4 linked regions of the Homo sapiens genome follow. The protein of the gene in region 2 interacts with the protein of the main gene of each other region in a pairwise test. Each region holds a gene or a part of one and is shown on either strand. Other genes may lie near its edges.

What was found.
Region 1: the proteins of VASP (region 2) and ZYX interact in binary tests that used the Homo sapiens proteins (3 or more experiments, as listed by UniProt).
Region 3: the proteins of VASP (region 2) and ABI2 interact in binary tests that used the Homo sapiens proteins (3 or more experiments, as listed by UniProt).
Region 4: the proteins of VASP (region 2) and SCGB2A2 interact in binary tests that used the Homo sapiens proteins (3 or more experiments, as listed by UniProt).

What each region holds. Positions count from the first base shown.
Region 1 is NC_000007.14:143,377,049-143,384,533, forward strand, and holds the start of ZYX (zyxin), read left to right. Parts: upstream 1-4,296; 5' UTR 4,297-4,361; intron 4,362-4,508; 5' UTR 4,509-4,523; coding exon 4,524-4,731; intron 4,732-4,870; exon of another isoform or gene 4,871-5,199; coding exon 5,200-5,399; intron 5,400-5,544; coding exon 5,545-5,637; exon of another isoform or gene 5,638-5,752; coding exon 5,753-6,274; intron 6,275-7,041; coding exon of another isoform or gene 7,042-7,053; exon of another isoform or gene 7,054-7,485. UniProt on the Homo sapiens protein: Adhesion plaque protein. Binds alpha-actinin and the CRP protein. Important for targeting TES and ENA/VASP family members to focal adhesions and for the formation of actin-rich structures.
Region 2 is NC_000019.10:45,502,921-45,510,643, reverse strand, and holds the start of VASP (vasodilator-stimulated phosphoprotein), read right to left. Parts: upstream 3,166-7,723; 5' UTR 2,873-3,165; coding exon 2,868-2,872; intron 1-2,867. UniProt on the Homo sapiens protein: Ena/VASP proteins are actin-associated proteins involved in a range of processes dependent on cytoskeleton remodeling and cell polarity such as axon guidance, lamellipodial and filopodial dynamics, platelet activation and cell migration.
Region 3 is NC_000002.12:203,394,037-203,401,537, reverse strand, and holds part of ABI2 (abl interactor 2), read right to left. Parts: intron 6,839-7,501; coding exon 6,692-6,838; intron 5,883-6,691; coding exon 5,758-5,882; intron 4,754-5,757; coding exon 4,571-4,753; intron 1-4,570. UniProt on the Homo sapiens protein: Regulator of actin cytoskeleton dynamics underlying cell motility and adhesion. Functions as a component of the WAVE complex, which activates actin nucleating machinery Arp2/3 to drive lamellipodia formation.
Region 4 is NC_000011.10:62,265,695-62,273,578, reverse strand, and holds SCGB2A2 (mammaglobin-A precursor), read right to left. Parts: upstream 3,422-7,884; 5' UTR 3,363-3,421; coding exon 3,308-3,362; intron 2,699-3,307; coding exon 2,511-2,698; coding exon of another isoform or gene 2,391-2,510; exon of another isoform or gene 2,376-2,390; intron 623-2,375; coding exon 584-622; 3' UTR 419-583; downstream 1-418.

The sequences.
Region 1 (7,485 bases), on a different chromosome or scaffold from region 2:
CACTGCAACCTCCACCTCCTGGTTCAAGCAATTCTCGTAGCTGGGATTACAGGCGCACACCACCAACCCGGCTTATGTTTGTATTTTTTCTAGAGACGGGGTTTCTCCATGTTGGCCATGCCTAGTCTTGAACTCCCGGCCTCAAGTGATCCTCCCACCTCAGCCTCCCAAGGTGGTGAGATTACAGGCATGAGCCACTGCGCCTGGCTGTGCTGTTAACAATTCTTGACATCTTCTGGAAATGTGCTATTTTACAAAAGCACGTATACATATAGCTTGCATATACAAAATGTGTGTATGTGTTCACATGCAGATAGATATATAAACAGACAGAATTTGATGGTGTCATGAGACAGAAAGAGAAAATGGTAGCCCACAGGTATAAAGTAGGGGTGTTGGGGTGAAGGCAGACTTGAAAGGGGCTGTTGATGGACCAGGTAGGAGGGCCTGAGGAGAAGTGATGGAATACAAGGATGGAAGCAAGGATGGGGCAGGAGAGTCTTAATATTTGTGTTGCAAAAAAATTTTGCAGTTTAGGAGGTGAGAAATCCAACATCCAGTTAGCCTCAGTTTCCTTAACTAAAAAATGGGATAATGATGTATATTCCTCACAGGTTTATAGTGATGATTAGAAGGGGCGAATATATATATAAACAAACATACATATATGTTTGTTTGTTTTTTGGACAGAGTCTCGATCTGTCACCCAGGCTGGTATGCAGTGGTGCGATTTTGGCTCACTGCAACCTCCGCCTCCCAGGTTCAAGTGATTCTCCCATCTTAGCCTCCTGAGTAGCTGAGACTACAGGCACGTGCCACCACGCCCAGCTAATTTTTGTATTTTTAGTAGAGATGGGGTTTCACTATATCTTGGCCAGGTTGGTCTTGAACTCCTGACCTCAGGTGATCCACCCACCTTGGCCTCCCAAAGTGCTGGGATTACAGGCGTGAGCCACTGTGCCTGGCCAGGGCTAATATATTTAAAGTGCTTAGCATTGCACCTCAAACAATATTCTAAGCATTCTCTCAGCGTGTGCTGCTATTATAGTTGTTGATGTTATTAGGGTGCTGCTATTGTTGCTGTTTTCAGAATGCTTCACGTGGTCCCTGGCCCGTGAGTGAACCTCTATCCATCTGCAGTTGGCATATGGAAAGAACCTCCTGGTCACATTTCTCTTTCCATTTTAGAAATCATTCTTTTGTTGTGACACTGTCTTTTCATTTTCCTTCCCTGACTGCTCTTAACTTCCTACTTTATGCTGTGCACTCTTGAAGAAAACTTTCTGGTACCTGATGGTTATAAATCCTTGGAGGCGCGTGAAGATGTTTTAGGTAGTAAAGGGCAGTGGCCATTTTCTCACTTTGTCTCCCTGGCCTGGTCTTAAGCTGTTGGGCATTCTTTAGTCAGGAACATCTTCTTATTTGCTGTACTTCACACATACTGCCTAAGGATATCAATTAGAATTGCTTACTTAAGAAAAATGCCCAGCAATCGTTAAGGCCACTCTTGTTCATTTCCTGCATTTTTTTTTTTTTTTTTTTTGAGATGGAGTCTCACTCTGTTGCCCAGGCTGGAGTGCAGTGGCGTGATCTTGGCTCACTGCAACTTCCGCCTCCTGGGTTCAAGCGATTCTTCTCCTGCTTCAGCCTCCCCAGTAGCTGGGACTACACGCTCCCGCCACCTCACCAGGCTAATTTTTGTATTTTTAGTAGAGACTGGGTTTCACCACGTTGGTCAGGCTTGTCTCAAACTTCCGACCTCAAGTGATCTGCCTGCCTTGGCCTCCAAAGTGCTGGGATTACAGGCGTGAGCCACTGCGCCCAGCCCATTGTCTTCATTTTAAGAGCACTGACTCTGCTGCTCCTCTTGAGACATCTTGGGCAGTGATTCTGTTCTTCTGGGATACTCTGGGTGTTTCTACTTGTATTTAGAATGGCTGGCTTAAAAGTCTTTGTTTGAATATTCCGCATTCTGAATGCTCTTAGTTGTCAGTAAAACTATGCCTGCCTACGCACTCTTCTATTTCTGATTTAAAAATAGGTTCAGCTGCCTAACAATTACACATACTCTATTTTGCACGCGCACATTACTTAAGGAGACATTTAGAGGGTAGATAGCTTTTATTCCTATGAGTTATCTTGAAATCATCTTCTTAACTATCTTTTTTTCCCCAAAGGGGCCATATTTTGAAGGATTTGTGATGAGACTTTTGGTCTGTGAAGCCCAAGACACAATCTCCAACATGCACAGGAAATCCAGTATCAAATTTCTAACATGTCTTCAGAGACAGGCCCAGGGCTGGCTTGAGCGTGTCAGAGAGGTGTGCACTGCGTACTACCCATCATACATGGCCACACATGCCTGTGGCTGTGAGAAATACTGGTGGTGACAAAGACAATGAGATGCCAGAGAAAAAGATCAGTGGGGTTTGCAAAAGTGATTAAGATGTCGTCCTAGGTATAATTAAAGACTTAATAAGGTTGAAGGAAAGAGAGGACATTGCACATACCGAGGCCCCTGAGAGATCTGCCTGGCAACCCAGAAAGGGACATATGGGGGAAAACGCCTTAGTGTAACCAGGTCAGAATTTTCATTCTGGGCAGAACTGGAATTTGAATAATAATACTGAGTCATATAGCGCATACAGCTATGACATTTCATTTATTTCTCTATATAATGCAATAAAGTAGATGGATTAACCGTGACGTTTACAGATGGAGCAGGGGAGAATGAAGAGGCGTCAGTTTGGGCATCAGGCTGGATCTTCACACTCTGACCTCACTCTGCTCTATCCTGCCCAGTGTTGCTTCACCTGATATCAGGGGTGCAAGGCAACCAGATCTGACACCAGTTTCAGTTTAGATCCTGCCTTTACCTGGGTGTGACCCGGGTCCATCTCTTCAGCTCGGCCTCTGCTTTCTCTTCATAAACTTTTGGGGTTAGTCCTCGGATGATCTCTAAAACATGGCCCAGGTGCTCCTTGCCAGTAGAGTGTAGCCGGATTTGGAGGGACTGGACACTCAGTGTGAACAAGACGAAGGCCTCAGGAGGCAGTAAAAGCTGACAAGAGGAGAGAAAATGAAGCGCCTACGGGTGCATACTGGACTAGCGGGCGAAAGGCCATGACTCCTTAGTTTGGAGAAAGAACTGGGGCCGAGATTGGGGAAGTTTCCCAGTGCAATTAAAAAAAAAAAAAAAAAGAACTAGAAGAATTACCCAGGTCTGGCTTCTTTCGTGTAGCCTGGGGCTGAGTCGCAGGCTGAGAAATCCAGTCTGGCCAGTAGGGGGCTCCACCAAGCGCAGTCTCAGAATGCCCAAGAGCTCCACCGTCGCCCGGGGTCTCCACCAAGCGCAGTCTCAGAATGCCCAAGAGCCCCACCGTCGCCCGGGGTCTCCAAGAGGAGTGGGTCGTGGTGGGCGTTGAAGGGCCGTAAAAGACGAGCAGCCCGCGTCCGCGTCCGTCCTCCCGGGTCTCCAGTCCGCAGGCGGCCGCCGCCTCGGCCCCGCCCTCCCACCTCCATTCCCGGCCCCGCGGACCCGAACGGTCCCTCTCGCAACCGATCTGCTGGCTGGGGCGCTGGGGATGCGAATTCCTAGAAGCCTTAAGAGGCTGCCCAGCGTTGGAAGTTCGTATCCCCAAGAATGCTGGAGGTTCCGGCTCACACACCCCCTCCGGGCACAGAGTCAGCTGGGGGGTGCTGGGAGGGAGAACGCCCCGCTCCTCACCCCCCATCCCCGTGCACCCTGGAGCCCAGCTCCATACGTTCGGCCACCCCAGGCGGACTCGGGGTGGCCGGGTAGCGGGTGGTGGCAGGAGGGGACCGGGTAACGGCAGGCCCGAGAGGAGGTCGCTGGGCCGGGCCGGAGGCGCACAGGGGCTGCGTGGCTACCTCGGCGGCACCCGCCCCACCTCCGCCGGCTAAGCCCGGAGGGGGACGGTGAGTCAGATCTCGGGCACCCGCGGGTCGGGCGGGGAGGGGGAGGCAGGTCAGGAAATGACATCAGAGGCCTGTGCTCAGGGAGTGGGGGTCTGAGCCGGGCTGGGGCGGCGGGGGCGGCAGTGAGTGGGGTGGGGGCGAGCGGACCTCGGCGGAGCCTCCGGCCTGAGGCAGGATCAGGGCCCCTTCCTGGGGGAGTTTCCTGCCTGGTCCGCCCTTCCCCGCTCTCCCCGCCCCCTCTCCGGGCCGCTCCTTGTATGGTCTGGGCGCCGCTCTCTCCCCGCCCCCTCTCTTCTCCCTCCCTCCTCCTTCCGTGTGTCCCTCCCCGCCCGGCTGGAGGCTGCTCCGGACCGGGACGCAGAGTCTGCGGACCCGGCGCCGAGGCGGCCACCCGAGACGCGGCGCGCACGCTCCGGCCTGCGGTGAGGCGCGGGGAGCGGCAGGGCGGCCCCACGGGGAGGGGGCGCGGGGCGCCGGGAGGGGGCGAGTGGGGGTCACCAAGGGGAGCTGGGACCGCCTGGGGCTCCTGAGCCCGGCTCCGCGCTGCGTAACCCGGCGACCCACCCCAGCAGCCCGGCCCGGCCATGGCGGCCCCCCGCCCGTCTCCCGCGATCTCCGTTTCGGTCTCGGCTCCGGCTTTTTACGCCCCGCAGAAGAAGTTCGGCCCTGTGGTGGCCCCAAAGCCCAAAGTGAATCCCTTCCGGCCCGGGGACAGCGAGCCTCCCCCGGCACCCGGGGCCCAGCGCGCACAGATGGGCCGGGTGGGCGAGATTCCCCCGCCGCCCCCGGAAGGTATGCGGCGGGGCTTGGGGAATGTACCCCGGCAGGAGCCGGGGTGGGGGGCAGTCGTTTCGGGAATTTGGGGATGTCTGGAAAGGTTGTTGCCGAGGGGGCTGGGCGCAGCCACCCTGTCCCGAGCAGATGTTCTTACCTCATCGTGGAGCTCGTGGCTGGGAGCCAGGGCTCCTGGGACCGTTCCAAGTCCCCCGCCTGGGAGTGGGAGTCGGGAATGTGGGGCACGAATCTTCCCCTCCGGGTCCGTTTTCCGAAGTGTAACGGGAGCTGCACCACTCCTCGGCAGTGCGCCCGGCCTTTCCTGACCTGGTACTCCCAGGGCGCCCTGCGCCCCTCCTTTGCTTCCCCACACGCTCTGGGACCCCTGAGAGAGTTCTTGGGTTAGGGGTTAGAGCGGTTAACTGAGGGGAGCTTGGGTGAGGGGTAGAGGGACCCCGGCCGACGTCTTTCTCCTTCCTACCCCAGACTTTCCCCTGCCTCCACCTCCCCTTGCTGGGGATGGCGACGATGCAGAGGGTGCTCTGGGAGGTGCCTTCCCGCCGCCCCCTCCCCCGATCGAGGAATCATTTCCCCCTGCGCCTCTGGAGGAGGAGATCTTCCCTTCCCCGCCGCCTCCTCCGGAGGAGGAGGGAGGGCCTGAGGCCCCCATACCGCCCCCACCACAGGTACGGAGGCCTGGGAGGGGCGGCTGCACTGGACACCCCCAAGGAGAGGAGAAGAGGGCCCTTTCTTCTTACCTCCCCTGCACCTCTGCCTTGGGGGTGGGGGGATAGAGGCATGGAATAGGTGCTCTGACCTCTGACCCTCTAGCCCAGGGAGAAGGTGAGCAGTATTGATTTGGAGATCGACTCTCTGTCCTCACTGCTGGATGACATGACCAAGAATGATCCTTTCAAAGCCCGGGTAAGGGACCGGAGAGTAGGAAAAGCAGGGCTCAGGGCCAGAGAGACTGGGCATAGAACTAAGGAGGATGGTGTCCTCCTGACTGCATCTCTCTTCCCTCTCCCACCCCTTGCAGGTGTCATCTGGATATGTGCCCCCACCAGTGGCCACTCCATTCAGTTCCAAGTCCAGTACCAAGCCTGCAGCCGGGGGCACAGCACCCCTGCCTCCTTGGAAGTCCCCTTCCAGCTCCCAGCCTCTGCCCCAGGTTCCGGCTCCGGCTCAGAGCCAGACACAGTTCCATGTTCAGCCCCAGCCCCAGCCCAAGCCTCAGGTCCAACTCCATGTCCAGTCCCAGACCCAGCCTGTGTCTTTGGCTAACACCCAGCCCCGAGGGCCCCCAGCCTCATCTCCGGCTCCAGCCCCTAAGTTTTCTCCAGTGACTCCTAAGTTTACTCCTGTGGCTTCCAAGTTCAGTCCTGGAGCCCCAGGTGGATCTGGGTCACAACCAAATCAAAAATTGGGGCACCCCGAAGCTCTTTCTGCTGGCACAGGCTCCCCTCAACCTCCCAGCTTCACCTATGCCCAGCAGAGGGAGAAGCCCCGAGTGCAGGAGAAGCAGCACCCCGTGCCCCCACCGGCTCAGAACCAAAACCAGGTGAGGGATGGTGATAGGACAAGGCTTGGTACCAGGGCACTGGGGCGGGGCTGGGTCAGGAGCCAGAGCATAAGCATAAGGTGATTGGAGAGTCAGGGTGGACACGGGGGTTGCGGGGTGGCGGGATAGGAATTTTCATCCTCTGGGGTTAGCCTGGTGGAACAATGGTAGGAAAATGCTCCTCTGGAGGAGAGGCCTGGCTGGGTGTGGGGCTGGGTGGGGCCTGGCTGGGACGGCGCAGAGAGCATGGGCTCTGAATTAGGAGGATCTGGTGGACCTTTCCTTGTGCCTTTACCCCAGAAAGTTAAAGGGAGGGATGAGATCACCAGTTCCACCTTGGTTTTTCCCATTCTTGGGTCTTGAGTTAATCTCCCTGCTCCTCTGAGCACTCTTTCTGCCTGAGGGCTTGGAGGTAAGAGACAGCCCCAGTAAACACTGGTTGAGCCAGCATCCACCACGTGCCAGGCACTGTGCTCTGTGCCCAGGAGGGTAGGACATGGGAGGGAAGAGATCTCTGCAAGAAGCTCAGCCTTCAGGTGTCAGATGGACCTGGAATGGAATTCTTGGCTCAGCTTCTCCCAAGTCCTTAGACTGGGCAAGTTAGGTGAACCCTGAGCCTCAGTTTCTCAATCTTTAACATTCTCTACTCCATACAGTGGTTGTGAAGATTGGGTGAGCTAATACCTAGAGAGTGTTGGGTTCTGTATCTAGTACAGGAATGCTCAAAATAGAAAAGCTGTAATTACAAAATGGTTCTTGCCTTCTAGTTCAGGAAATAAGATCGTCCAATTTCTGGTGACGAAGATGACCCTGATGGTCATCTAGTCCAAGCATCCAGAGTCCACTGATAGTGTTGATGTCTACCTACACTCGGACACAGCATAGGAAGAAATGCCAAGGGCCAGTGAGCTTTGCAGAATCCTGTGAGTCACAGGCACTCAGACCAGGGAGTCAACTCGGGGAGTCAAATTAGGAAAGGCTTCGAAGGATGGGCAGGACGTAAGAATCCAGAGAGGAGAGGGATGTTTGGAGAACAGAAAGTGGAAGGTTCCTGTAGGAAAATGATAGAGCTATACTTGGAGAGGCAAGCGGGGCTGGAGGGTGTAGGAGGTGAAGTGGCTCACCCAAGGAGCTCTTGAGCACTGGAGAGGCATTCATGATTTTTGAGTAGGTGTGGGGTGGGTCAGGAGGGCTGGTGAAAGCAGTGTTTT
Region 2 (7,723 bases):
AGTTTAATAGGCACCTTGCCTAACTTTCCTGTGCCTCAGTTTCCCCATCTATAAACTGAGTACCGGGGTGGGGAGGCCACAAGGTTGTAATAGTATCATTGTTCGAACTGCCATGAGGGGCCAGGTGTGGTGGCTGACGTCTGTAATAATAACACTTTAGGAGGTCGAGGCGGGTGGATCACCTGAGGTTAAGAGTTCGAGACCAGCCTGGCCATCACGGTGAAACCCTATCTCTACTAAAAATATAAAAATTAGCCGGGCATGGTGGCAGGCACCTGTAGTCCCAGCTACTCGGAAGGTTGAGGAGGAGAATCGCTTGAACCCAGGAGACGGAGGTTGCAGTGAGCCGAGATCATGCCATTTCACAACAGCCTGGGCAACAAGAGCAAAATTTCCGTCTCAAAACAAACAAACAAACCAACAAAAAAACCAGCCAGAATTGCTGTCAGGCACAAAAATGCCCCACATAAAATAGATGCTTGATCAAATGGTCTCTTATTTTTTAAAAATAAAAATAGCTATTATTGGAAGAAGAAAGAAATGGACCCCAGTTCTCCCCAAGTCCCTTCTGCCCTGAGATTCTAGACCTCTGCCTCGCTTCTCTGTCTTCCCAGCACCCCAGCTCCAGTCCCGGACACAGCCAACACTCAACAAATATTTGTCAAACTGGGAGAAAAAGAACTATATCTTGTAATTTTCCATCTTAACATCCTCTCTTCCAACTGCCCCCAGGACTGTCCCCAGCCAAACCAGCCAGAAATCAGAGGATCCTAGGCTCCTCCACCCCTCCAACGTTGCCTAGGAATTTCTGAGGGATCTTGGCCATGTCTTTTTCTCTTTGAGCCTCAGTTTCCCCAGCTGGGTAATAGGGGCATGGGTTTTGAATTCTGGCTGTCCTTGGAGAAGAGGCACAGCCCAGGAAGTCGGGTGTGACCACCTGCAGGGGAGACCCCCTGGAAAGGTGGGAGTGGCCTTTTGGTGGGACAGGCATCTGGTCATTTCTGCACCGCACCCCACCCCAGCACCCCCACAAGACGGGATGCTTGGCCACCACCACAGCAAGAGGTGGGCCTTGTGGGAGGGCCAGGGCTTCCAGGGCTGGTGCTGGTGGTGGTGGTGGTGGTGGGGAGGACAGGGGGCCGGCCCAGACACCGCTCCTGCCCTTTTACGGTTGCAGTGAGTGAGGCAGCACTAACTCGGACATCCGCCATCCGCCTTCCACCGAGCCTGGGACCGGAAACGCGAGGGGGGGTGGAGGGGCGGGGCTGGGGGGCAAGGGGAGAGAAGAGTCCCGGAGGAAGAGGGCGAAGGAAGAGAGCGACGCTCCCTAAACTGACCCCTCTCCAGGGCGGACTTGGAAGGGATGTTGCTATAATGGGGAGCGGATAGGCAGGAAGTCTTGAGGGTATCTGTGGGTGTCCTCCTTGCTCCAAATTTTCCAGCCATGCCTTTCACATCAGAAGGAACAAACGCGGGAGGGGGATTCTCTAGTGGTCATAAAAAGGAATGCCACGCCACTCCGATGTCAAAGGGCAGGGGTTCAGGAAATGCGGGGGATGTGGGCACCACGGGGTTAATCCCCAACCGTCCCCAGGGGCCTCCCTGCTCAGGCTGGGGGCTTTGGGGCAGGAAGTCCCAGAGAGAGTAGAGGAAGGGAGATAGTATTGTCAGGCTCTGGCCCCATGGGAGAGATTATGGGGGGCCAGGGGAGGGAAGAATAGGGGGGATGGTTGGGCCCCCCTGCCCACACTGGCCCCGCCCTCAGGTGAGCCCAGGAGTTCGGGGGAGGCCCCGGCCAGACCAAATCCCTGGGTCCCTTGGGCCGCCACCCCCAGGATTAAATTCCTGGGAAGATAGCTGGAATTATCTGGGAAGCCTGGGTCCCTAGGGAAGAGGGCTATGACCTTGAAGCTTTCCAGCTCCCCCTCCTCCAACCCCAAGGCTCCGGGTGGATAGGGGGACGGTGAGCAAAGGGGGAGGGGCCGTGGTGGGGAAGGCAGCCGGCCTACAGCGCTTGGTGCCCGCCCCCCACACCAGCTGTCTCGACAGGTGAGTCAGGAAGACAAAGGCCCCCTTCCCCCAGCTGCCGCGCCCCCTCCCTCTCCAGGGCCGCGCAGGTGGGGGAGCCGGGCCGCCCTTATGGCCGGAGGCGGGGAGCCGCCCTCTGCTCCGAGCGCCCGCTCGGTCCTAGGCACGGCCAGTTAAGCAGATTGTGTGCGGAGCGACGGGGAAGGGGGGGGTCCCACCAGACTCTGGAGGCTGCGTCCAGGTCCCTGGATCGGTTCACACCAGCCTCCTCCACAGGAAGACCTAAGTGACCCCCAAAATCCAGGGGATTAAGAAGTACCCCCGAAGTTATGGAGCGCGGTCCCACTTGGGGAGACTTTTTCCAGCACCAAGTAAACGGGGGACCTGCACACCCAGGGTCTGAGTCTCAGTCTCTCTTCCAAGTCCCAGGGTATCCCAAATCGGTCCCCCACAATCCTTCCCGGACCTCGAGCTGAAGTCTGGGGGGAGGGGGAGGAGAGTCTGAGCCCTGCCTCAATCCTGGCATCCCTGCGGGGAGTCGCTGCCAACTTTGAGGTCCTCTAAAAAAAGTCTTAACAATTCGGGAGTCCTCCGAGCGCCCCCAAATCTTGAGGGCTCCCAGGAGAACCTCACCGCCACCACCCCCCGAGCTTGGGGAGTCAGTCGTGGAGAAGTGATCGACGGTTCTGGGGCGCGTCCAAGGGGATTCAGCTCAAATCCGAGGCTCCCAAGGATCTGTCCCCAAATTCCAGCCCGGAGCTAGCTGGGGGGGAGGGGGACAAAGGCGGGGCGCGGAGCCCGCCCGGGCGGGGACGGGTCGGGGGGCAGGTCCGGCTCACCTCATGGCTGCTCGGCGGGCGGGCGGCTCGCCCACGGGCTGGCTGCTCCCGGGGCGCCCCTGGCTGGAGGTTCAGGGGTTCGGGGCTGGCTCCGGGCTCGGCTCAGGCTCCCCCAGGGTCCCGCCCCATAGAGTCCGGCTTCCTGGGGAGAATGTGGACCGGGCCGGGGCGGGTCTCCGGGCGCCGCTTCCCTCAGGCGGTCTGATGAGAGGTTCCTGCAGCAGAAAGGGGATGCAGCGTCCGCTCCCCAGCGCGCACCCCTTGCCGGTGGCGGCTACAGTGTTACTCTTACTACTGTACTTCTCTTCGTTACATTTCGTTCCAAAATTCCACTCCCCGCACCCACAATGCCCCGCGCCTTAAAGGGGCCGCGTGCGCCTCCAGGCGAGGGGGTGGAGGGCGCTTAAAAGGGCAACTCTGCACCCTCGGCTTCCGCGATCTCGCTCCTCTCCCCAATGTTGTAGCCCAGGGGTGCACCCTGGGAATCACCCCCACCTGAGGGGCAAGTTGGTGAAGGGGAAGGGGACCTCCCTTGCTTCCTAGTTCGCTCCCACTGTGGGAATTCTGAGGAGGGTCTCGGAAGGGGCGCGATTTCTTTCCCCATCGACTTCTCCATCTCGTACTCCGCTCAATTTTGGGGGTCGAGGAGGACCCTCAAGTTAAGCAAGTGGTCTCAGATTTTCTCCCTGAAATCCCATCTTCGGAACACCGCCCCTCCCCAGCGTTTCTCTTCTGTCAATTTCGGAGAGGTTACTAAGGGGGCGAGACCCCCACCCGCACGGGAGTGGAAGTCGGGGGAGTAGGGCCCAACCCCTCTCACCCCACCCCGCCCGCCCCGGGAAGGTGAGGAGGAAGTGGGCCAAGGGGGCGCGGTCGGTCGCTGACTCACAGCCGCAGGGTCGGGGGTGGGGTGGGGTGGAGGTGGGGACTGGCGAGGAGTGCGGGAGTGGGGGGCCCGGCATTCGCCCGGGGTGGGCAGGAGGCGCCGGCTTCTTTGGTGTGTAAAGCCTCCGGCCCACGCACGCCCCGCTCTGACTCAGTTTCGCCTGCGGAGGACAGCAGGATCATCCCAGCCCTCAGGAGGGCCCGGAGGTGAGGAGACCCTCCCGGGAGCCCCCGCCCCCACACGCCGGCTCCGGGCTGAGCCCAGACACCCTCTGAGGCTTCCGCAGCGTGTCTTGCCGGCCCCGCCCCGAGTGACGTCACTGATTTGGTCGCGCCCCTTGGGTAGAGCGCCACCTGGCCCGGGTGAGGCGCCCGAGCCCTGGGAAATCAGTTAGTTCCACATTTACACACGGGTAAACTGAGGCCTGGAGACAGGGAATGAATCTGGCCTATGGCCCTCTTGCCTGAGCCCCCAGAACCCGGAAAGCCACCAAGGTCTGAGTGTAAAACCAACAATTCTCAGGGCCAGCTGACTATGTGAGAGAATCCACTTTTCCAGCGTATGTCCAAGCCGAGTCCCATGTCCGGATGTTGATGTTGTCCTGACCTCCTTTACCTGGGGAGCACGTCATCCTTCCAGGCCAAGCTTTGACATTAATTCCCCTCCCCTTCTCCACCCCACTCTGGGAGACCTTGAACCCTGTTCCTCGGAGGTTATCATTGTTTCTCAGTGTGTTTCCTCAGGCTGAGTTGTCTGGGAGAATGGGTAGACTAAATTTCTTTTTTTCTTTTTTTTTTTTTGAGATGTAGTCTCTCGCTGTCACCCAGGCTGGAGGGCGCTGGCTCGATCCCCGCTTACTGCAACCTCCCCCTCCTGGGTTCAAGCAATTCTCCTGCCTCACCCTCCTAAAGTAGCTGGGATTACAGGCACGGGCCACCAAGCCCAACTAATTTTTGTATTTTTAGTAGAGATGGGATTTCACCATGTTGGCCAGGCTGGTCTCAAACTTATGACCTCAGGTGATCTGCCTGCCTCAGTCTCCCAAAGTGCTAGGATTACAGGCATGAGCCACTGCACCCAGTTGACTTAATCAATTTCTGGACCTCACTCACCCCAGCCAGGCCCGCCCGGCTCAGCAGCTCAACAAACTTACCTAGTTGAATGAGTTACCAGTTCAGTGTGACCTTGGGTAACTGTGTTCTCCTCTCTGGGTCTCAGCTTTCCCATCTGTGACATAGGAGGGGTGGCATTTCTGGGTGCCACCTACACTACAACAACAGTCAGCAAACATGGTTTTTTGTTTGTTTGTTTGTTGGAGACAGGGTCTTTGTTGCCCATGCCGGAGCGCAGTAGCATAACCAGGGCTCATTCGATCCTCTAACCTCAGCCCACTGAGTAGCTGGGACTGTAGGTCCACACCACCATGCCAGGCTAATTTTTTGTAGAGACAGGGTTTAGCTGTGTTGCCCAGGCTGGTCTCAAACTCCTGGGCTAAAGTGATCAGCCTGGCTCAGCCTCCCAAAGTGCTGGGATTGGAGGTGTGAGTCACCAGGCCCAGCCGGCAAACATTTTCTGTAAAAGTTCAAATAGGAAATATTTTAGATATGCTAGACATAGGGTCTGGTTTACACACTCTTCAGTTTTTCTTTTTTCTTACAAGGCTTAAAAACTGTAAAAAAAACTCTTCTTAGCTTAAGTGCTGTACAAAACAGGTAGCAAGACCCCTGTGTAAGAGAACGCTTGCATATGTACATAACGATCTTTACGGTAGCAGTGATGTGAGAGCAAGAAATTGGAAATAGCTTAAATGTTCATCAAGAGGACAGGGGAGGCTGGGCACAGTGGCTCACGCCTGTAATCCCAGCACTTTGGGAGGCCGAGGCGGGTGGATCACTTGAGGTCAGGAGTTCAAGACCAGCCTGGCCAACATGGTGAAACCCCGTTTCTACCAAAAACAAAAAATTAACCAGGCATGGTGGCACACACCTGTAATCCCAGCTACTTGGGTGGCTGAGGGGCTGAGGTGGGAGGATCACTTGAACCCCGGAGGCGGAGGTTGCAGTGAGCCAAGATCGTGACACTACACTCCAGCCTGGGAGACAGAGCAAGACTCCTCAAAAAAAATTAAACAAAACAAAACAAAAAAAAGATGAGGGCAGGGAATAGTGAAACCCTTGGACATCCTTTTCTGAAGCACGGAGTGAGCAGCAACTTAAGGAGGTGTGGACTGGGCAAGGTGTGTCATGCCTGTAATCCCAGTGCTTTGGTGCTTTGAGAAGCCAAGGCAGGAGGATCACTTGAGGTCAGGGAGTTTGAGACCAGCCTGGACAACATAGTGAGGCCCCATTTCTCTCTTTTTTTTTTTTTTTTTTTTGAGACAGAGTTTCATTCTTGTTTCCCAGGCTAGAGTTCAATGGCGCAATCTCGGCTCACTGCAACCTCCACCTCCTGGGTTCAAGCGATTCTCCTGCCTCAGCCTCCCAAGTAGCTGGGATTACAGGCATGCACCACCAAGCCCAGCTAATTTTTGCATTTTTTAGTAGAGATGGGGTTTCTCCATGTTGGTCAGGCTGGTCTCGAACTCCTGACCTCAGAAGATCTGCCCACCTGGGCCTCCCAAAGTGGTGGGATTACACGTGTGAGCCACTGCGCCTGGCCGAGACCCCATCTCTAAAAAAAAAAAAAAAATTAACTGGGTGTGGTATCATCCATCTGTGGTCCCAGCTACTTGGGAAGATGAGGTAGGAGGATTGCTTGAGCCCAGGAGTTCGAGGCTGTGGTGAGCGATGATTGCGCCATTATACTCCAGCTTGGGATACAGACTTAGACCTTGTCTCTTAAAAAAACGGGTGGCATGAAGTGTGTAAATGACGTGGGTGACATAGAATGAAAACATCCATTAAGTGGATAAAAAGTTGCCAGAGATACGAAGGGAATGAAAAAAATCAAGGAAACACCCAGAATACCATATATTAATACATGTAAAAAGTCCACTTTAAACTCATTGCAAGGGTTACCAGTGAGATAGAGAGTGTGGGGTTAATTTGGTGGTCACAGAGATCTTTTTTTTTTTTTGTAGAGACAAGGTTTTGCTATGTTGCCCATGCTGGTCTCGAATTCCTGGAATCAAGCTGCCTCGGCCTCCCAAAGTGCTGGGATTACAAGTGTGAGCCACCGCACTTGGGAGGTCTCAAGTCTGTCTTGAAAATGCCAAATTTGGCCGGACCTGGTGGCTGGCTCATGCCTGTAATCCCAACATTTTGGGAGGCCGAGTTGGGTGGATCACCTAAGGTCAGGAGTTCGAGACCAGCCTGACTAACATGGTGAAACCCTGTCTGTAGTAAATACAAAAAGTTAGCCTGGTGTGGTGGCACGTGCCTGTAATCCCAGCTACTTGGGAGGCTGAGGCAGGAGAATCACTTGAACCCAGGAGGCGGAGGTTGCAGTGAGCCGAGATTGCACCATTGCACTCCAGCCTGGGCAACAAGAGTGAAAACTCTGTCTCAAAAAAAAAAAAAAAAAGGGGGGAAATTTTATCCTGCTTCTAAGCCTTCATACTGATTGTTCCCTCTGCCTTAGAACACTCTTTGGGGTATTTGCGGAGCTGACTCTTCTCTGTCAGGTCTCTGCTCAACTGTCCCCTCCTCAGAGACCTTTCCTGATTCCCCTGTTTCAAAAGCCACCTCCCCCACCACGGAAAATTGAGTGGCTGAAGTGTGAGAGGGATAGAGAAAGACTTCATTGTATGCCATCTTGCACTCTTTGCATTTCAAACCAAGTGAATTTATTACCCATTCAAAACTACCTGAATTAAATAAATCAAAATTTTAAAAATTGGAAAAAGTAAAAAACCCGAAGTAGCTCCCCTAGTCATTTTCTCAACACATCCTCCTGTTTTATTTTCTTCGTGACACTTGTCAGTGTGCAAGATGACTTCATTTTTTTAGTATTAATTACAGACTGGGCGGGA
Region 3 (7,501 bases), on a different chromosome or scaffold from region 2:
CTGGAGACATGATTCCATAATCCATCAGTTTCCTAATAATATAATCCACTCCCTAAACTTTACCTTGACTGCACTCCCACCTACATTAAGCTGAGAACTTTTTCTTACAGACAGAGCACCACAGCACCCATGAGAGAGCACAATAGCAGACAAGGGAGAAGGGGAGGGCAAGAGAGAAGAGGAGGCGGAGAAATAAGCAGGTGGAGAAGAAAGCGGAAAGGGGACAGGAAGGTAGAGGAGGAGGAGATGAAGGTGGAGGAGGGCAAGAGGATAGCAGAGGGGAAAGGAAAGGAGAAAGAGAAAGGGAGAAAAGGAGGAGATAAGTGAAAAGGAAAAAAAAAACACTTTTGCTAAACCCAACAGGAAGCCAGAGGGCAAAAGAATCCACTGAAACATTTCATGGAGGTCAGCCTACTGGAGAAGAGGGGAGAGTAGAGGAGGGGGGACTGGAGGAACAGATGATACCTGGCACACTCATCTATCCATTTGTGCCTAAGGTTATCCTGAAATTTTTTAAATTCTAAAATAAACTACTTGAAACACAGTGAGATAAGACTTATGTAATATGGAATTTGATGAATGCTTGATTTGTTGAAATCTTCATGATCAAACACTGCAGTCATATCCTCTTCCAGGCTTCATATTTCTCAGCTGAGTCTTACCATCTTTATTCTACCTTAATATGAGACTATCTTCTTGGTAATTTTAATTAAAAGTATTAGAGGAAAACAACACTTTGACAATTTTTCATCTTGTCTATGATTATAAAATGGTTTTATATGACTAAAATTGTTCTACAGGAGCTGAAAGTTTACCAAGCTTAGATTCATATGGAGTCATATAAGGATTATAAGAGCACTCAAGGCTTGTTATAACATTTAAACATCTTACATGTGTATCAAAAACTTAAGCACTCAAGCTTAAACATAATCCACTATCAACTGAGAAGCCTCTGTAACCATGATAAAAATGAAAACATATAAACTATGATTTAAAAGGCATATTTAGTTATTTGAACCACTGAATACAATTAGCATTTCAGTAATTAATCTATAGCAAACTAATACAAACCTACGATCAAGTTAAAAACATCTGGATTAACATCATTATGAATTTTATATAGTTAGATCTAGTCTAAAACCTCACATGGGCTGGGCATGGTGGCTCAGGCCTTTAATCACAGTACTATGGGAGGTGGAGGCGGGTGGATCATTTCAGATCAGGAGTTCAAGACCAGCCTGACCAACACGGTGAAACTTTGTCTCCATTAAAAATACAAAAAATTAGCTGGGTGTGGTGGCTCACACTTGTAATCCCAGCTCCTCAGGAGGCTACGGCAGGAGAATCACTTGAATCCAGGCAGCGGAGATTGCAGTGGGCCGAGATTGCCACTGTATTCCAGCCTGGGTGACAGAGTGAGACTCTGTCTCAAAAAAAAAAAAAAAAAAAAAAAAAAAAGACACTATTCACACTATTAATGAGTCGATTTACCATTTGGGGTTTTAAAAATATATATACCTAATTATCATAAACCTAGCGATAAAACCTGAAACTAAAAACTTCTAGAAGAAAACACAGAACAAAATCTTTATGACTTCAGGTAAAGAGTTCTTAGATATGCCATCAAAGCACGATTCATTTAAAAAAATTTTGAAAAATAACACTTAATAAAAATGAAGAATTTCTGCTATTTGAAATACAACATCAAAAAAATAAATGAACAGGCTGGACCCAGTGGCTCACGCCTGTAATCCCAGCACTTTGGGAGGCTGAGGCGGGCGGATCACCTGAGGTCAGGAGTTCAAGACCAACCTGGCCAACGTGGTGAAACCCCGTCTCTACTAAAAATACAAAAATTAGCTGGGCATGGTGGTGGGTGCCTGTAATCCCAGCTATTTGGGAGGCTGGGCAGGAGAATCGCTTGAACCCGCGAGGCGGAGATTGCAGTGAGCTGAGATCCTGCCATTGCACTCCAGCCTGGACACCAAGAGTGAAACTCTGTCCGCCCGCCCCTCCTCCCCCCGCCAAAAAAATAGAAAATAAGCAAACGAATCACAAAATGGAAGAAAATATTTGTAACTCATAATCTATAAAGGACATATATTTAGAATATAAAAGAACTCAATGATAAGGAAAAAAACCCTATTAAAAAGGTGAGAAGGAACAAAACATTTGAACAGATACTTCACCAAAGAGGATATACACATGGCAAATAAGCACATGAAAAAAATGTTCAATATCATTAGTCATTAAGAAAATGCAAATCCAAACCACACATGTAATGAGAAACCATTACACATGTATTGGAATGGCTAAAGCTAAAAAAGGCAACACCAAGGGCTGACAAGGATGCAACTGGAAACTCACACATTGCTGCTGGGAGTGTAAAATTATACAGCCATTTTGGAAAACAACTTGGCAGTTTCTTATGACGTTAAAAATTTACTTACAATATAACCCAGCAATTCTATTCCCTAGGTATTTACCTGATATAAAAACCCATGTGCACAAAAAAAACCCTGTATGTACATGTTTATAGCAACTTTATTCATAAGCACTCAAAACTAGAAAAATCTAAATGTCCTCTGAGAAAGGGATAAACAAATTGTGGTACATCCCCATACAATACAACACTACTAAGCAATAAAATGTAATGAAATACTTAAACATGCAACAACATGGGTAATTCTCAAATGCATCTGGCCAAAAAAAACAGATCAAAAAAGCTACATACTATATGCTTTCATTTATGTTATACTTAAAAAGGCACAACTTTAGAGAAAAAAAACACATCAAGGGCTTACCAGGAGCTGGGAGTGGAAGGGAAGGACTGACTATAAAGGGGGCATGGAGGAAATTTTTGCGATGATAGGACTGTTCTGTAACTTGATTGTGGTGGCAATTACATGTCAGTACACCTTTGCCAAAACTCACAAACATATATGGTATAAAGGGTGAATTTTACTGTACATAAGTTATACCTTGGTAAAAAGAAAAACAATTGCTTGGTAACTCAGGTACTGTATAAAACAGACTATCCTGATATAAATTATTAATAAGACATTTACCTTGCTTTTTGTTTTAAAAACCACAGTTAATTATCCCCTCACATAACAAATGTTTATTTAGTGAACACTGAGCCAGGCACCTGTTATTCAATTAATATTTAATTACTAAAACATAGACTCTCAGTTGGGGGTGATTTGTCCTTTCTGATGCATTCTTTATCAAAGCAGGAGCATAACGAGATTCCTATATTTAACTAGTTAGTTTGGCCTAACAGTTGTATCTGGATCAAAAAACACCCCATGTTTACATTTATCTACTGCAGAAAGCTTTTCTTTAAAAGTCATATAGAAGGAATCCCACAAGACATCACCCAAAATCCATTTTGGCTAAAAGTGTCTTTTAAAACATGTAAAGATCTTATATATGTTTAACATGTATAACAGCAAAGCTGAATATAAATGCCATGAAGTTCTTCACTGGCAAGTGGAACACTACGGTGATTGATATGCTTTGAATCTGTGTCCCTGCCCAAATCTCATGTTGAATTGTAATCCCCAATGTTGGAGGTGGGGCCTAGGGGGAGGTGACTGGATCACAAGGGCGGTTTCTCATGGTTTAACACCATCCCCCTTGGAGCTGTTCTTGCAATAATGAGATCTGGTTGTTTAAAAGTGTGTAGCACCTCCCGCCTTGTCCTCTTGCTCCTACTCTGGCCACGTGACCAGTGTGCTTCCCCTCTGCCTTAGGCCATGAGTGTAAGTTTCCTGAGGCCTCCCCAGAAGCCAAGCAGATGCCACTATCATGCTTCCTGTACAGCCTGAAGAACCGTTAGCCAATTAAACCTCTTTTCTGCATAAATTACCCAGTCTCAGGTATTTATAGCAATGTGAGAACAGACTAATACAGTGATATATGTCCAAACACATACATTTTATAGCAGACAAGAACCTGTTACTAGCCAGCATCATTAACTCTACAAATATATTTCGTAGCAATTGAGTCTATCTCCTCCCCAATCAAAACAGATTTTAGATTGCAATTTTAAAACACCAGCCAACTTAAATAAACCTGAAATTCTTTAAAAGTCCATTGTCTATGAGTTTCCAATGCTGCTATAATAAGCAACAGATTCTGTTAAAAATAGACTTACAGAGGCTTTCCATTTGTTGTATCAAATATTTCCTATAAAATATACCTTAGAATTATTGTAATAGACTTTTGTTAATCACTTAACCTATAATGAAAATATTTCTAATGATAATTTCCAAAAACTGTATAGAAGGTAGCTCCATATTAAACTTAAAAATCTCTAATAAATGAAATTCAAGCAATAAAAAAACACAAATTTATGCTACCCTATTGGAAAAATGTATGAGAAACTTTACCTCAATTTTCTCAGGAAATGCTAATCTTTGGTCACATACTTTCTGGTTAGTACATTATTCTTATTTTTTTTTAATACGAAGTACAACAAAACCAAAAACAAACAAAAATCAGAGGTGCAAGTAAGAGAATAGCCAGATGACTGCATCTGCCTGCCAATGAATAAGCAAATACTTACCTGTAGGGGGAGTGGAAGAAACAACAGGGGGAGTTGGAGAAGTGAAGCCATCAGCAAGGGTCTGGGCACCCCCAGCAGCAGCGTCTGGGGCAGTGGAGGAAGGGACAGTAGCAGGAACAAGAGGAGCAGGGGCAGATGCAGAAGTAGCAGGAAGGGGAGGAGTGCCAGCAGAGCCAGCAGGGGCTGAGGGGAAAGAGGAGTAAGAGGCAGCATTAATGAGGCAATCACATGAGGCAGGATTAGAAAAGGTATTAGAGTATTTAATGTTAGATATTCAGTGCTTAACACTAACCAAAAGAACAGAGTTGAAAAAAAGAATAAAACTTATGCTAAAGGATTACTATATAAGCAGCAAATAATTCAAGATGCTCAGGGTAATGTGCAGATTTTTTCAATTCATTAAAAACAAACATTCCTTTTCAATTGAAAGCACTACTCCAGAAGAAAAGTGTTCCCTTCGTATTGTTATTTTTAGCATAACATTCTGTATATAGTATACAAAACTAACATAATACACTAAAAAACAACAGTTTTCCATTTTGAATTACACAAATCAGAAAATAGACATATTCCATATTATCAGATTAAAAATTTTTTTTAAAACACAAATCTTTATGATTTTTAAAAGGCATTATCTACTTGTTACTATAAGTAAATTAAGTATGTAACATTCTATTAATGTATTTTGTGTCACGTTTTCAAAACTAAGTTTTAAGTGTGTATCTCCTCGAATCAAATAAGCAGATTTTTCTGTTTCAGAGAAAAGAGGGTAGTATTTTCAGAGACTACTAAATTCCAATACAGCCACTAAATTTAACTGTCAAAACTACTTTTTATATCTGCCCAATCCTTTGTTACTAATATGGTTCTCACACTGAGTTCCCACTGTGTCCAAAGACTGCACTGTCATAACACTAGCTGGAATTAAACTTGTACTCATAACAAAGTGTGATCTGAAACCTCAAAGCAGCAACTGAGCCACATCACCAAAGGCATAAAGAGAAGTGCAAAGTGAGCAAACACTTACAAATCACTTGCTTACAAATAACAAATATATAGACTTCCCAATATTTATGATTCCTAAAGAAAAAAAATCCTGATTACGAAGAAAGCCCACCATAATTAAATCACAAATTGAATCAAATTCAGAAAGGAAAAGTGAAGACGAGGCACCATGAATGTTTTACCTGGAAAGACACTGGGAGGAGATGGAGTAGGAACAGCAATAGGAACCCCCACACTACCACTTCCACTGTTCTCTCGACTGCTGCTCCGACTACTTGGGTGGCTCCCTCCACTACTCCCACTGCTGCTAAAGAAATAAGAGCCACCAAAACATGAGTATTTATAAACAGTAAGAGATCATCAGCACTTCCCGACATTTTCTGAGATGAATGTAGCTACAATAAAGGTAATTCAAAAGCGTACCACTTCAAAATAAAATTTCCTTGAGCTCCAAGTCAGTGACAGGTTAAAAAAAAATGTGTGTGTGTGTGTGTGTGTGTGTGTGTGTGTGTGTATATATATATATATATTTACTTATTAATAAAGTTGAGGGGAAAACTGAGTTCAATAAGCTTGTTTTGACCACATTTTGAAAAAATTATCCATAAATACAAGTGATAAATGTTGAGGTTTAACACATTAAAACAATAAATATTGCCTTTTTATATTCCAGTTTAATGCCTATCTGAAGAAACTTCTTTTATAATAAAACAAAAACATTTTCCTAAACAGATTTGAGTAATTTTAATTAATAATCATACTCTGATGTACTATCCCATATTAATGTTTTATTATGTATAGTTTTTCATCTGTAAAGTTCCACCAAAAAACAACCTGACATTTCCCACATTTGGTCCATAATTTTTTTTCCAGATCAACTGAACTCTTAAAACTTGGAGAGAAGTCTGCACTTTGAGATGTCTGTTCTTTATCAACTTCCTGACTGCTCAAAGTTGAATCAGAACATGAGGAGAGAGAGGTGAAATCAGATGAGGTTTGGGAGAATAGAGTGAGGAAAAGAACTTAGTGCTTGGAAAATGAGAGATTTACCTGAAGTAATCTGAACAGATTATGGTACTATGACCATCACATTTTGCACTGAGGTAGAGAAAATACCTGTAAGTTCGATTTCTTTGATTCACAGAAGCTGTCCTCACAGGGCTCTGCTGCGAGGGAGCCATATTACGGGTTGGGCTAGGTACGTAATCATTTGGTACCACTGGAGGACGCACTGGCTCCAGTGTGCGATAGGGGGAGTGCCGCCTACAAAAAGAAGAGCGTATGTATTGTATGATTAAGCAAGTTTCGGCACAATAAATTCAAAGAGTTGCCAGCAGTTGAGATACAATTTGTAATCAGAGATAGGAAATGTGTTTTAACATAACCCAGCTACCAATTTCAGTCTTTACTAATGTATCACTTCTCCACCATTAGGGTTTTGGTGAATATTGTTATTTTTCAGTCTCCAACCTCATTTCCCTGTGCTAATGCAATTTTGTTCATTTATTCTCAAAGAGCACAAAGGTTCTCTACCATTTAAGCCAATGTTTCCCAGACCCTACCTCTTCTTAGAAGAGTTGGAATTCTTTTAGTATCATATTAAAGTCTCCCAACTGTACTTCATGAATGCACTAATTATTCTCCTCTCCCTTCTCTCCCTAACCAAAGATATTCAAAGACAGGAACTACAAATCTAGATTTAGGATCTATAACCCCCACACTGATGATCAATACTAGCCATAACAACTCATTTCCCTTTCTATATACCAAATATACAGAAATTAAAGTATATCTATATACAAAAATACACACTTTAATCTCATCTTCCGTTCTCACTTTCTCCCTCAACTTTCACCTTGATCTCTTTTCTCTTTCCTTCCTCAGAGTTCAACATTTACAAAGGTGGGGGGAAGGGAATGACCACCA
Region 4 (7,884 bases), on a different chromosome or scaffold from region 2:
CCAGTCAGGTGCCACCCTGCTTTGCAGGACTCCTCTCCCTGGCTGGCTCTGGCCCAGGCCCTGCACATCTCGGGGAGGCCCAGAGACAGCGCAGAGAAGCCTGACATGGCCAGCAGGGCTCAGCGTGGATGGGAGGACTGGAGTGAAAGCAGGTCCTCTGAGTGAAACCCTGCCTCACATCCCAGAGCCTGAGGACTCCAGAGAGAGTCGACGGGGGAGGTGGTGGGATGGGGACAGGGAAACACTCTTCAGAGAGAGTACCAAGGCTTAGAGGTCAGACTGAGGAAACAAATGCTTCACAGAGTCCTCAACCCATGACCATGAGTTCTTTAATAAGTAAGTGTGTGTGTGTGTGTATGTAAAATATGTGAGGCCCTCTAACGCCTCTTTTCTACGGTAGAACAAAGAGAAACTTCAGTTTTTGCCATCAATTTATTAAAATAAACATGTATAGCAGGTTTCAACAATTGTCTTGTAGTTTGTAGTAAAAAGACATAAGAAAGAGAAGGTGTGGTTTGCAGCAATCCGTAGTTGGTTTCTCACCATACCCTGCAGTTCTGTGAGCCAAAGGTCTTGCAGAAAGTTAAAATAAATCACAAAGACTGCTGTCATATATTAATTGCTAGAAAGCAAAAACAGAGACATCACTTAGATTTTCTGCACTCTCTAACAAAATAAAATCTTGAAAAACAGAAGCTTATCTTTTTCCACGGTTTGCCCACAACCATCTAGCATCCCAGACGGTTAGGGCTGGAAGTAGAAGAGCTGTTGTTTCTGGATCATTTCCCCCACCATGGACTTTTTAAATATTTTTTCTGTGTGTTTGTGGTTCTTTGAAATAATGTATTCAACAAATACGTGACTATATTACCTATTTTCACAGGATTGTTAAAATCTTAGCTCAAATGCAAAAAAAAAAAAAAAAAAAAAAGTGAAACTTTGAGCTCTCGTCTAACCCTCCATTGTGGAAATATTCCCAGCATCCCAGCAGTCCGACGCCCTCTGCCACCACCATTGTGCTCTACTAATTATTGGAGCTGCAGACTATGATCTGTCTGAGGAAGCTTTTAAAGAAACAAATCCATCACCCTTCCCTGCAGTTGATAATTAGTTTTTAACAAATTATTAATAGTGGTAAAATGTACATCTCATAAAATTTGCCATTTTAAGGGGACAGTTCGGAGTGTTCTGTATATTCGTGTGGTTGTGCAACCTAACTCCAGAATATTACTGTTTTGCACAACTGAAACTCCAGACCCATTAAATATGACTCCCCCTTCTTCTCTGCACCCAAGCCCTGACAACCACTGTTTTTTTTTTTTTCACTGTCTCTGAGTCTGGCTCCCCAGATTCCCATATGCATGGGTCATGCAGCATTTGTGTTTTTGTGACTCTTTGCTTCACTCTTCACTCGCTATAATATCCTCAAGGTTCATCCATGTTGTAGAAAGCGTCAGGGTTTCCTGAGGTGATGTTCACTTTCATCCTAATGGAGGGGTTTGGTATATTTCTAACTTTTTTTTTTTTTTTTTTTTTACCAGGGAAGGATTAAAGAAGAATTTAACATAGGGAATAAATGCTAAAGAAAACCCTCAACAATATACATGTATAGTTAGAAAGAAATACAAAACTATTGGTTTTTGTTTGAGGCAATTCTTCCTCCATGGTGGTTTCATACCCATGATCTACAGTTGCCTATTGGATAGTCCAAGGTTTCTCATCATTTATGCTAGCAAATTATGATTGCCTGGAAGTGCATTTTAAATTCTTTTTATTTGAGATGTATAGAATCTTGCTCAAATGGTATTTTCCAAACTGTTGAAAAATAGGGCATTTTTTAAGAAAGAACACTTTTACTTTTTTTTGAAGAAGAGAAGTTTTCTCTGCAGATTGGTCTATAGGTGCGGGTCTTCTGGAAAATTGTTTTTTCTGTAGAGAGTGAACATATGTTTGTATGTGTGTGTCTGAGTGTGTTTGTGTGTGTCTCTGTGTTTCTGTGGTTGTGTGGTTCTGTCTGTGTGTTTGTGTTTGTGTCTGGATGATTGTGTGCTGGTGTGATTGTGTCTGTGTCTGTGTCTGTGTCTTTGCCTGTCTGTCTATGTTTGTGTATGTCTGAATGTGTGTGTGTTTGTGTGATTGTGACTGTGTCTGTGTGTTTGCATGTGTCTGGATGTGTGTATGTGTGTTTCTGTGTTTGTGTGATTGTGTCTGTGTTTGTGAGCATGAATTAGAGAGCTCTGGGGATAGGTAAGACTTCTACCGACCTTTCCTTTTCCTCTCTTGCCCTATTCATTTATCATCCACTGAGGATTCTCTGGGTAGAGTGACAACACAGGGACACTGGATGTTTTTCTTGATGGCAAAGTCATTAGACTAACCATTCAACTAAATTAACCAATGTAAGAAAAGGCTTGTTCACTAGTGGCTTTGGCATTGTCAGTGAGAAATGAAGAGCCCACTTGTCCCTGGTCAGGGGATTTAAAAAGCTTATAGGAAGAAAATGAAATTACCATAAACACCTCAACATTGCTCAGAGTTTCATCCGTTTGGTTAAGAAAACATTCCTTCAATTCATCTATGGCATTTGTAGTGGCATTGTCGTCTATGAACTCTTGAAGAAGTTCTTTGTATTCAGTCTTAGACACTTGTGGATTGATTGTCTTGGAAATCACATTCTCCAATAAGGGGCAGCCAGAGCCTGGGAAGGATGCACAAGGAAACAAGCTTGGTACAGAAGGCATGAAAGGCTTGGGGCAGACCTATTACATTCCTCATCTTCTTACAGCCCAAGAGAATATAGACTCAAAGATAATGATGCAGAATCTAGAGTTCTCAAATCTGGGAGAAAACCTCAGGCTCTGGGATTTCCTGTAAGCCCTGCAACTTCTTTCTCTCCACTCCCCAGCCCAGAAAAGCTAAACCTCATGAAACTTCATTTAATGAGAAGACTTGAGAAATGAAACACTCGGACTTGGAAGTATATCGTGAAGATTATTTGGTCTTCTTTGGTTCAAAATCATACGATGCTTCACTATTACCATTCAGAGCATCACAGAAGATTTCCAAGTATCTTAGGCCAAGTGTGGTGGCTCACACCTATAATCCCAGCACTTTGGGAGGCCGAGGTGGACAGACTGCCTGAGCTCAGGAGTTCAAGACCAGCCTGGGCAACATGGTGAGATCTGTTATACCTACAGCCTTTGTACTGGGGCTGATCTCTGCTGAGAATTGGGGAGCAGGAGTTCTTCCATAGAGGCCCAAGTGACAACCCCTAACCCCGAGGCAGCCCTCCCTGCACAGAACTCACCTGCGTAGCAGTGCTGGGAGAGGGCCGCCAGCATGAGGACCATCAGCAACTTCATGGTGAGGCTGCTGCTGTCGGTGTTCAGTCGCGGGTGGCAAGGATCAAGGAAGCCGCTGTGGAGGTGAGCACCCAGCCTTGCTCTATTTATTCCCCAGGTAGGCATCTTAATTCCACCCATGAACGAGGCAATGAGTCAACCTGGCATGGGACCAGTAAACAGGAGCATGCCCCAGGGGAAACACAGCCAGCCTGTATGTAGAATCTTCCTGCTTCTCTTCCTCTTTCTTGTATTCCTTCTCCACTTGCTCCCCTTCCTTTTCTTCTCTGTCTCTTTCTTTAAGGTGAGAATGAAAGCATCATGTCCCGTGTATCTGTGCCAGCTTATCCCAGCAGTGGGCCTAGGTGCAATACCTCACACCTACTCTTGGGAGCAGGCTTTTCTCATCCACTGACATCTCATTTTCAGAAAGGGATGTCTGGGAAAGTTTTACCTTTTGTGGGGAAATTTAAGGCCATCCACCCTCCGCTGAAAGTTATTTTTACAAGGATTATCTCGGTTAATTATAAATTAATTGATAACTTTGTTTAGTTCTTTGGTAACTTTTTAGGGTTTTCTTTCCACTGATTCAAAGGATGCTGTGAATTAGTAGCGTAACTGATGGGCTGGACAGGCAGTGCTGGGTGGTGGGTGGTGATGGAATTTGGAATCAGGGATGAGGGTTTGGACCCTGGATGCAACTTGCAGTCCTGCCATGTCCTTGCTGGTCTCTCTGAGCATCCTTCCTTTTCATCACTTGAAGAAAATAAAAGGCGGAATGGGATAGCATGCAGAATTTGTATAAGGATGCTTCATGTAAAGATTGTTTCATGGCCGGTCGCAATGGCTCATGCCTGTAATCCCAGCACTTTGGGAGGCTGAGGTGGGTGAATCACCTGAGGTCAGGAGTTTGAGACCAGCTTGACCAACATGGAGAAACCCCTTCTCTACTAAAAATACAAAATTAGCTGGGCATGGTGGTACGTGCCTGTAGTCCAAGCTACTCAGGAGGCTGAGGCAGGAGAATTGCTTGAACCCAGGAGGTGGAGGTTGCAGTGGGCCGAGATCACACCATTGCACTCCAGCCTGGGCAACAAGAGTGAAACTCTGTCTCAAAAAAAAAATTGTTTCACACAGCCCAGTACAAAGTAGTCATGTATAAAGACAAGATTTCATCCATGCATGCAGCCATCCATCTTTAAATAACTACTGAGCATCCCCTATGAGCTGGCAGTGAGCTGCACACCATAAATTCAGTTATAGGCACAATTTAGACCAAGCCCTTGCTCTCATGGAGCTGACTTTCCAATAAGGGAGGTAACAAGCATCCTGCCACATAAGAGAGATATGAGAAAGTAGTAATCACTGCAAAGAACTCAAAATATCCACAACAGCAAAATGATGTCATGGACTGACTACTGAGAGGAGGAGGCCATGCCATTTCAGCTGACATTTGGATGAGTGGACGACACTGTCTAGTGACAGATCCAGGGAAGATGCAGTTCCATGCAGAGGGAATGACAAGATCAGAGACCAGAGGGCAGATGGCACTTGGCCAGGTAAGGAAGGCAAGGAACATGGCCACATGGGATCAGGAGGACAGGACAGCCTCATGTGACAGAAAACCCACCCTCGTTTAATTAGGGGCATGGTGAAGGTCATGGGAACAAGAAATACAAAGCTGGCTTGGGTTTTTTATAAAAGAGGCCGGGCGTGATGGCTCATGCCTGTAATCCCAGCACTTTGGGAGGCCAAGGTAGGCAGATCATGAAGTCAGGAGATTGAGACCATGCTTGCTAACATGATGAAACCCCATCTCGATTCAAAATACAAAAAATTAGATGGGCGTGGTGGTGCATGCCTGTAGTCCCAGGTACTCGGGAGGCTGAGGCAAGAGAACCACTTGAACCTCGCAGGCGAAGGTTGCAGTGAGCCAAGATCACGCCACTGCACTCCAGTCTGGGTGACAGAGTGAGACCCCATCTCAAAAGAAAAAAAGAAGATACGGATGAGAGAGCCAAAGAGATGAGTCGGTTCTTCACTTCCCGTGGATGCATTATTTGCTGTCCGGATTACCCATGACGTCTTTCTTTCCATCATTCAGCTGGAGCCTCAGATATTTTCCAGTTGAGAACAAAATTGATTTAGGAAGAGGCTAGAAAAGAAGGTTTCTGTACTTATAGGTGTACTTTCACCCAGCTGGCCATGGCAGGCATCCTTCTTCCATAAATGAAGTGAAAAACTTTGATCATGAAACGGAGACTGTCTCCTTGGCCAAGACCTAATGGGTCTCTGCCTGGTGCCCCAGTCCTTATGGACCTGCCCTCTTTCCCACAGGGACAAACACTCACGCAGAGTTATCTTACCCATCTAAAATGAACTCCCCACACCACCTACATGGTGCCCCACTAAAGAGATGGTGTTTTCTTTCACTCACATATTGTATCCAGATCTGACAGTGATCATTCTCTGGTGAGTCATAAGACATACCTGGCCCAAGAAAGGCTCATTTGCAAGCCAGTATTTGCAGGGAGAGAGAGGAGAATCAGAAGTTTAAAACACGGTACTGCTGGTCCAATTTTTTCTCTTCCCAAAAGGGAAGAATTGTTTTTTCTTTTTCTTTTGAGACAGAGTCTCGCCCTGTCACCCAGGCTGGAGTGCAGTGGCTTGATCTCGGCTCACTGCAACCTCCCCCTCCCAGGTTCTCCTGTCTCAGCCTCCCAAGTAGCTGGGACTACAGGTGCCTACCACCATGCCTGGCTAATTTTTGTATTTTTGGTATAGATGGGGTTTCACCTTATTGGTCAGGCTGGTCTCAAACTCCTGACCTCAGGTGATCTACCCACCTCAGCCTCCCAAAGTGCTGGGTTTATAGGCATGAGCCACAGCACCTGGCCGGGACTTTTATTCAGGTCCCTAATTCAGTTCAGAAACTGGAAGCCAAGTGTCCTTCAGTCTTCAGTGTTTCTGTGACAAGTGTTTACTGAGCCTCTACTATGACAAAGCAATAAGTCATTCACACATTCTCTCTAAAATGTGCTTGTGTTTTGTGAGGGGAAAAAAGTGTGCCTTAAAAAAAAAGGCAGACATCTACCCTGGCCTTGGGCTCACAAAAGAGCTGAGATGTAGGGACATGAGGGATTTGGGTAAAGGAAAGGCATTGCCATACTTCATATTAAATAGCAATGTTGTTTGAAAGTCATCTTTTCTCAGTGATTTCTGTATTTGTACCGAAAAGCCTGGAATGGCCGGCCCTGGAAGCTGCATCTCTGCTGAATTCTGCAGCCCTTTTCCTTCATAGGCCCATGGCTGATGGCTCCTGAGTGAGGACCCCAAGCCAGACCGACTGCCTGTGTTCACATCCCAGCTCCTCTGTTTGCTGACAGTGCCACGGTGGACAGGAGACTTAACGATTTGTGTCCGCTTCAAAATGGAAACAGTCATAGAATGGTTGTGACTCATAAGTAAAGTAAAAATGGTAAGGTACTGGGAACAGTGCCTGGTGCAGAGTCAGTGCTGTCTAAATGTCAGTTGCTCATCATCTTTTCCTATTGTTAAGAGTTGTATTTATGATTCAACTCCTAGGACTACTAAGCTCATCATAGAACACTGGAAAATTAGTCTGCCCTTAATATTCTCAAAAATATATCACAATAACCATAGTTAGACAAAGCAAAAACATTTAACTTGGAAAATAAAGCACTGCATTGTGATCCAGGCTTTGGTATCTTTTCTCTCAGTCCATTTTAAAGAATTTTGCTGAGCTCTAATTGACATATAAATTCTCTCCTAAACAGACCCTACATACTGTCGTCCGATGAATCTTCCCAGAACTCAGCTCCAAATGTGCTTCCACTTGCTTTTTAATGTTCAGTAGAGCAGGAATCATAATTATGTAGCAGTTTGCTGTTTGAAAGGCACTGTTGAACCCTGTGACAACATTCCTAGCAGCAACCTTAGCAGAAGGGTGACCGTATTATTTGTTAGCCAAACTCCAACATTTTGGTGGCTGAAAAGAAACATAAAATCAATGGGATGCCAGGACAATAACATAACCCAGGACTGCTGTGGGCAAATTAGCATGAGTAGTCACTTCCCTATGATGTGGGCATGTCATTTCACCCCACCTAACAGAAATGTGACACAGAGATGTTAAGGCACTCACCTGAAAGAACACAGCTAGGAAGGGGCAGAAGCGGGATAAAAAGCCAGATGTTCTGGCTCCACAGGCTGCTCTCAACACTATTTCCCTCCTTGGCTGAACACTGAGGGACCTGCACATCATGGTTCAGATGAGTCCTGGTGTCCATGACTCCCACTGCTGCCCTATGAGAACTCTGGGTTGATTTCTGCACAAGCCCTGGAGAAGAGTTTTCTGCTTGAGACCTTTGCTCCAAGTGGATTCCCCTCCTCCTCTGCCCTTGCCTCAGCTGCTCTGGGTTGAAACACTTCATTCCAAAAGCCACATCAAAGATGGCTAATGCCTTGTGTTCTTTGCTGGCCCTGCATCTCTGGGGACCTCCCTGTTCACAGGACCCTGTAT